Homo sapiens: one gene and its partner. The protein of the gene in region 1 purifies or fractionates together with the protein of each later gene. This does not show direct contact. Each region holds a gene or a part of one and is shown in the gene's direction. Other genes may lie near its edges.

What was found.
Region 2: the proteins of AKR1C4 (region 1) and PLXDC2 purify together in Homo sapiens (affinity purification with mass spectrometry; 3 studies listed by BioGRID and IntAct, with this or other methods). This does not show direct contact.

The regions. Positions count from the first base shown.
Region 1 is NC_000010.11:5,194,775-5,198,702, forward strand, and holds the start of AKR1C4 (aldo-keto reductase family 1 member C4), read left to right. Parts: upstream 1-2,062; 5' UTR 2,063-2,093; coding exon 2,094-2,177; intron 2,178-3,928. UniProt on the Homo sapiens protein: Cytosolic aldo-keto reductase that catalyzes the NADH and NADPH-dependent reduction of ketosteroids to hydroxysteroids. Liver specific enzyme that acts as an NAD(P)(H)-dependent 3-, 17- and 20-ketosteroid reductase on the steroid nucleus and side chain.
Region 2 is NC_000010.11:19,819,379-19,823,306, forward strand, and holds part of PLXDC2 (plexin domain-containing protein 2 isoform 1 precursor), read left to right. Parts: intron 1-3,928. UniProt on the Homo sapiens protein: May play a role in tumor angiogenesis.

The DNA.
Region 1 (3,928 bases):
ATCTAAAATAATTTTTAAGACTTTAATAAGAAATAAAAATCCGAAAGTCTTTCCTTACTAATATCAATGCCTGTAATTCTTCACAGTTTGTCAGTTTATTTTCTTCCTCATAATGAACGCTGTTTTCCTGTTTCTTTGTAGCTTTGTTATTGTTTTTATCGCACATTTGAAAAACAGCCACATTTCATAATCTATATATATTCTGTGTCATGACAATGATCAGCTAATATGCTTGGCATATTCTTAGTCTCGACATCAGCCCTACATGAAAACTTAAGGTCTTCTCAGTTCTTTTCTGAACGTGCATCTGCCTAGACTCTGTGTGCCCTATTTGATTTCTCCAAATACCCAATGGTTTTGAATACCTTATCATGTCAAAAATTCACAGCTCAGCTTCTCCTAAGTGCCATAGATGGCCTATTGTATGTCTCTTCCCCCTAATCTCTTGCCAGTGGCATCTGTGCATCTATAGTCACCCTGCATCTCTACTGAGCCACTCTATAAATAAATGAGTTTATTTTAGTTCATTTCAGATTGTTTTTTGATAATTCCATGGGAGATTTGAGAGCTTTCTAATCTACCATCCTGCTGATGACACTCTGTGTGAAAATTTTTAAATGGCTCTATTATATTCCATTGCTTCAATGTATAGTAATTTACCTAATTATTTTCTTTTATTGTTCCTTTTAGGAAGAAGTGAATAGAAGAAAAGAGGGTGTTGCAAATCAAAAGCACATAGAGATATCATCTTACACCAGTCAGAATGGCTATTCTTAAAATGTCAGACAACAACAGATATTGGTATGGATTCTTCACAGATGTTAATCATCTTCGTTTTTTGTTTTTTGTTTTTTTTTTTTTTTTTGAGACAGTCTTGCTCTGTCGCCCAGGCTGGAGTGCAGTGACCCAATCTTGGCTCACTGCAACCTCTGCCTCCTGAGTTTAAGCAATTGTCTTGCCTCAGCCTCCTGAGTAACTGGGATTACAGGTATCCACTACCACTCCAGACTAATTTTTGTATTTTTCGTAGAGACAAGATTTCACTTGATTGGTCTCAAACTCCTGACCTCAAGTAAACCTACCGCCTTGGCCTTCCAAAGTGCTGGGGTTACAGGCGTGAGCCACTGCCCCCGGCCTAATCATCGTGTTCTAGTCTGCCCTCCAATGGGAGAAACAAGTAAAATTATGCCATGTGAGGATTATTCACCAATTTATTTTAATTACTTTTTTCTTTATAACATTTAATAAGATCACAAATTATATAAAATAGTTATCAGCTTTTTGGGAAGTTACTTTTGCTGGTTTCTTATAAAACTGATGGAAGATACAAACACTATTAAAGAACTGTTTGCATGTTGCAAATGATGTCCAAAGTCCAAACATTGTTAATAATTAATACTCCAATAAACATCATGTCAGAATTTCTGTTTTCTTTTCCCTTTGAACCTTTGCAGGATTGCCACATCATCAGGACCACACCTTCATCAGGAATGAATATTCCTACTACAATTAAAGAAGAAACAAAATTAATTTGTTGGTGAAAAACGTAAAAAGAGAAATTTTCTTTGGTTTTGTTTAATTTCTTTATTGAGGGTCACCACTAAAAAAAAATGCTCACTGGTCATTCTTTTGAATACTGTCTGAGAGAAAGATGTAAGATGGTTGATTATTTCAAATGACAGAAGATAAAGATGGGATATCATCATGGCATGAACAAAAACAAGATTTGTAGCTGGAGGTATTTTATAGTCTAACATGATCACCAATCATTCTATAAACCTGTTGGATGAGTTTATCAGACAGACAGAGAGAGAGATTGATTGATTCTGAATAGAAAATTTCACTTTAGAAAAAAATATTTTGACTATATAATAATGTATGTAAAAATTCTCTTTGATAAGAAACGAGTGAACTGGATTCAATTTTCCTCACAGCCTGTGTAATACACCATCACTTGCTTCCTCCTACATGCCATTGATTAGCCCCAGGGAGCAGTGCAGCACTGCCTGCCCATGTTTTACATAACCCCTGAATATAAATGCCAGATGTTGCTGAAGGAAACAGGATCTGCTTAGTGAAAGAAGTGGCAAGCAATGGATCCCAAATATCAGCGTGTAGAGCTAAATGATGGTCACTTCATGCCCGTATTGGGATTTGGCACCTATGCACCTCCAGAGGTAATAATCACATTTTCAGCATTGAGCATTTAAAAGAGCAAAGCTAGAATAAGTGAACGATGACCTGGGTTGTTCAGCTTTGTGTTTCTGTTACCCTGAGTGACTCACGTGGTCTGTCTTACTGGGCTAGAGCTATTCTATGTTCAAAGAGAAAAGGTAGTCAATGTTTGTTTTGCACTGAGGTCTGTCATATGGTAATTTACTGCTTATTTTTATTTTATACACTGTTTTTATATGCTGTTTCTGTGTATTGCCCAGCTTGGCAGAATATATAAAACTCAACAGTGAAGAACACTGCCTGGCAGTTCCCTTTCTAGGAGATGACTGCAGTGAGAATGGTTTCTCCATTTATTTCTGTGGTTGAAGAAATCTTTTATTCTTCTACTAGACGTGATCAAAAGAAACATTTGTGGTAACAGCACCTAAAGATGGGGTGTATGAAAACTGTTGGGAGAGTACTGCTGAGCTGCCGCGTGGTCTTGAGCATGACACAGTAATACTGGTCCTGGACTTAATACAATGCCCTGCACAACTCTCACCTCTAGGAAAATTATCTGAAAGGAAAAATAACTTTATTCTAAGGAAAACCTAGAACCTCACAAGAAAAATTTTAAATTTTTGGTCCGTGTTAATATGCATCAGATTTGTATCAAAATGATAGGGGTGGCCCTCTGACACGGAAGTGGGCAAAATGGAGACATTTTTTCTAGACTGAGCTATTTCTACACTGGAAGAAAACTTGTATTCCAAGACTACTAAGTGTGTTAATAAGGAGTAGTCACATAAAATTTTTGTCTAAATTTGATCAACTATACGTTGTAAGAATTTACAGAGAAACACCTTGAAGACCATCGACAGGAGTGGTTCACTTTGTAATGCAAATTGGCATGAAGGAGAAGTAAGGAAAAGCACAACACGGAAGCTCTAGCCTTGGTAAACCTTGAGTGCCTGCACAGCAAACAGAGGATCAGGGTTGGCATCAGGGGAAGGTAGTGCAACCTGGCATCTAGTTCCTTTTAATTTCACTAGAAAAAGAAAGCTTCAGAAAAGCTTATATTAAAATAGAAAATTGTTTCATTTACGGTTTTGTCATTTAAAAAATATACCTTTCAAATCTTTATCCAAATTTGGTAGATAAGTCAATAATTTTAAATTTCACTGAAATTATATCGTTTCTAAAAGAGTTGGTCTTATTTTTTAGGGATAAAGCGTACCTTACTAATCTCTCACAGGTCGCAGTTAATTTCTTAGGTATAAATCTACATCCTTGGAATGTATGTCTTTACTCCTAGTATTTAGTTCTGTCATGCACACAGAATGGCTAATGGCTGTGTAGAAAGGAGTTAACACAATAGACTGCCACCCGTAGATGCGCCTGTTTTCAAAGTTGGAGCCTGGCTGGTATCTGAGAAGTTGAATTTCTCACCCCTTCCTAACTGATAAGGGTAGCATCTATAATTAACTGGTTGTACAAAGTGTGGGGTTTCTGTATACCTGCTTTCTTTACAAGACCGGAAGTTTGGTGTGTGCTATACAGACTGGGTCAATTTAACCAGCACCCAGTTAAAATCTTGGGAATTGAGTCTCCAAATAGCATCCCTTGTAGTCAACATTTCCCCTATGTTGCCAAAATGTGATGCTGGAGGAAGTCAGTGTGTTTCCTGAAACATCACTGAGAGACGAATCATAGGAACTTACACCGTATTCTTACCATAATTTCTTCCATGTGCCTTTTTCCATGTGTTAATTTC
Region 2 (3,928 bases), about 15 Mb from region 1:
TGTAATTAAATGGTTAGCTTACTGAATATATAAAAAAAGCAAGGTGAAACAGAAAAAAGTATACAACTTTATTTGTAAAATAGTCTATATAAAAATTCAGTATGGGGGGAAAAGTCCAGCAGTCTTGACGTTTGTCATGCAACAATCAGGATCTTTATTACAGACATGTTGGCACAGGAACAACATCTGATTTCATAACAGGGACATTTTATTATGCGTTACTTTAGTAAATGCTGCAGTTGATTTCATTGCCACCAGAGGGCAGATAAACTGCTAATTTCCTCTATTATTCCCTTTTCTGTTTTAGAGGGAAGTAGTTTATGTTTATCATATAATTTACACTTATTTTAGTTGTTCTTCTCTGGTTGAATATTTTTCTGTTATTTCCTGCTTTTGTTGGAGTTAAACAATTTACTTTGAAATATTACTCATTTGTAGAGTTTGTTATGAGAGTGTTGCTGTTGAGACATAATCACTAAAGTTTCTGTTTACATATAAACCTAGAGCACAGTGATATAATAGAGGGGTTAATTCAAGTGAACATTTATTGTAAAATGGACATCTGTCATATTGTTGGACAAAAGACAGGTTGATTATTTTATCAATCAATGACTTGAGGCTACCTGCAAAATTTTAAAAATATGAAATATGAGTTTCTTTTTCCTTTAGAGAACAGATACAAGTTTTGGAGCTTGAGGTTGGGTAAGTTTGGACTGAGACATAATTGTAGTGTAGAACATTTATATCAAAGGTAATTTTTGTTGTTGTTGTTCATGGATGTCTGCCTAGAGGTTTGGAATTATTATAATCAGGAGAATTTGCACATTTCAGTGTGATCTTCAGAAATAAACTCTTGTCAGGGAGAATGTATTTGAATAAAACTTAATAATGAAAGATAATAATTTTGCTCCAGACAGGTTTCTTCACTGTAAGCATCAGATACTCACAGAGTATGTAGAAAATATGTGTCCGGCCGGGCGCGGTGGCTCACGCCTGTAATCCCAGCACTTTGGGAGGCCGAGGCGGGTGGATCATGAGGTCAGGAGATCGAGACCATCCTGGCTAACAAGGTGAGACCCCGTCTCTACTAAAAATACAAAAAAAAATTAGCCGGGCGCGGTGGCGGGCGCCTGTAGTCCCAGCTACTCGGGAGGCTGAGGCAGGAGAATGGCGGGAACCCGGGAAGCGGAGCTTGCAGTGAGCCGAGATTGCGCCACTGCAGTCCGCAGTCCGGCCTGGGCGACAGAGCGAGACTCCGTCTCAAAAAAAAAAAAAAAGAAAAGAAAATATGTGTCCTTATCAATTAGTTTTGTCATTTTTTCCTAAAAGCTATCTCCTATTGCAGAAACATTATGTTTTTAAAGAGGAATGAGTTGATCAACAGCCTTGATCATGGGATCTAAAGTCTTCAGCTGCAGGCTGGGCACGGCAGCTCATGCCTGTAATCCCAGCACTTTGGGAGGCCGAGGTGGGCGGATCACCTGAGGTGAGGAGTTCCAGACCAGCCTGGCCAGCATGGTGAAACCCCGCCTCTACTAAAAATACAAAAATTAGCCGTGTGTGGTGGTAGACCCCTATAATCCTGGCTATACTTGGGAGGATGAGGCAGGAGAATCACTTGAACCCAGGAGGCGGAGATAGCAGCGAGCCGAGATTGCACCATTGCACTCCAGCCTGGATGGGCGACAAAGGGAGACCCTGCCTCAAAATAAAAATAAAAATAAGTAAACAAACAAATAAATAAATGAAGTCTTCAGCTACTTTCTCCTCACATTAATACAGTCTCTTCTCCATGGTCTTCAAGGCCATTGCCTGTGGCCTCAAGCACTTTCCCACCCTCTCTCCCCTGCCTGTTCTTGAAAGCTCTCACCAGATGAGCTGCTGAAGTTCCCTGAGTGTGTACCATGCATTACCACTTCTGCCATTCCTCCTGCTCTTCCTTCTCTAAGTGCGTCTCCATCCATCCATTTTCCAATTTTTCCTGCAGATTTATCTCAAGTGACACTCTCCACAAAAGGACGTGTTGTCTTAGAATTCTCAGTGCACTTTATGCCTTCTTCAAAGGCACTTGCTTGATATTGTAGGGTTTCCTTTTCTTTCCATTTCTACCTCTCTCTCATGTATTCTATTAGACTAGACCATACATTCCTGAGGTCAGGGTCTGTTGTCATTTATTTCTGAATCTGCTGTGGCAACAACCAATAAATAGTTGCAATAAATGGTTGTTGGACTGAACTGAACTGACTAGAACTATAGTTCAAGCTGAATTATTAATTTGAATGCCACGTTGGGAGACTTTTTAAATAATTCCCATGCTAAGACTTTGTCCATCCCTAGGATAGAAATAAATTTAAAACGAACTTTGGAGAGTAACTGTTGAAACCAAAGCATAAGATCCAGAAGTCTGCTAAACTATCCTTCTACTATTAGGTGGGACTTTCAAAAAATTCATTCGACCATTCTTCTATCCTGCTGGTTTCTGAGTGAATGTTCACTCATGTTCTTAATCTCATATCTTTTTTCTTTTATACATTCCTTTAAAAAAAATTCTTTGTTTTCATTTTTAATAATATGTATTTAAGCTGTGCAACATGATGCTTGTTTATTTTCTTATTCTATGTATAAGAGAAAGCAAATTGCATTTGTATTTCCGTGTCTGAATTATTTTACTTAGCACAATGTCCCCCAGATTCATCCATGCTATCACAAATAGCAAGATCTTCTTTTTTAAAGCTAAATAATATTCCATTGTGCATATATATGCACTATATATGCAATATATAATGTATATACACTATATATGCACTATATAGTATATATGCACTATATATAATATATATGCACTACATATGCAATATATAATATAAATGCCCTATATATGCAATATATATAATATATGCACTATATATGCAATATATATAATATATATGCACTATATATGGAATGTATATGCACTACATATGCAATGTATGTGGAATATATATCCAGTTATTCATCAATGGACACTCAGGTTGTTGTCATATCTTGGCTATTGTGAATAATGCTTCAATTAACATGGGAGTGAAGATACCTCTTAAAGGCTCTGGTTTTATTTTCTTCAGGTATATATACAGAAGAGAGGTTGCTAGCTCATATGGTGGTTTTATTTTTGATTTTTTGAAGCAACTTCATATTGTTCTTTTTATGGCTCTACCAATTTACATTCCCACCAACAGTGTATAAGGGTTGCCTTTTCTCCACATCCTCACCCACACTTACTATCTATTGTCTTTTTGACAATAGCCATCTTAATATTAGTAGGTGTGAGATGATACCTTATTGTGATTTTGATTTGTATTTCCCTAATGATTAGTGATGTTGAGGACCATGTCATATGCCTGTTGGCCATTTTTTTTGTCTTCTTTGGAGAAATGTCTTTTTTAGGCACTTTGCCTATTTTAATATCAGTTATTTACATTAAGCCTTCTGTTGATAGATAGGACTTTCAAAAAGTTTATTCCACTATTTTCCTATACTGCTAGTTTCTTTCTGGATGTTTACTTACTTTTTTTTTTTGAGACAGAGTCTCGCTGTTTCTCCCAGTCTGGAGTGCAGTGGCGCGATCTCAGCTCACTGCAAGCACCGCCTCCCAGGTTCACGCCATTCTCCTGCCTCAGCTTCCCAAGTAGCTGGGACTACAGGCACCCGCCACCACGCCCAGCTAATTTTTTGTATTTTTTAGTAGAGACGGGGTTTCACTGTGTTAGCCAGGATGGTCTCGATCTCCTGACCTCGTGATCAACCCACCTCAGCCTCCCAAAGTGCTGGGATGTTTACTTATGCTTTTAATTTAATATCTTAAAATATGATATACATATATATGTACATATGCATACATATATGGTGGTGGTGGTGTTTCATTTCACTGAAGATGAAGACTATTAAATAA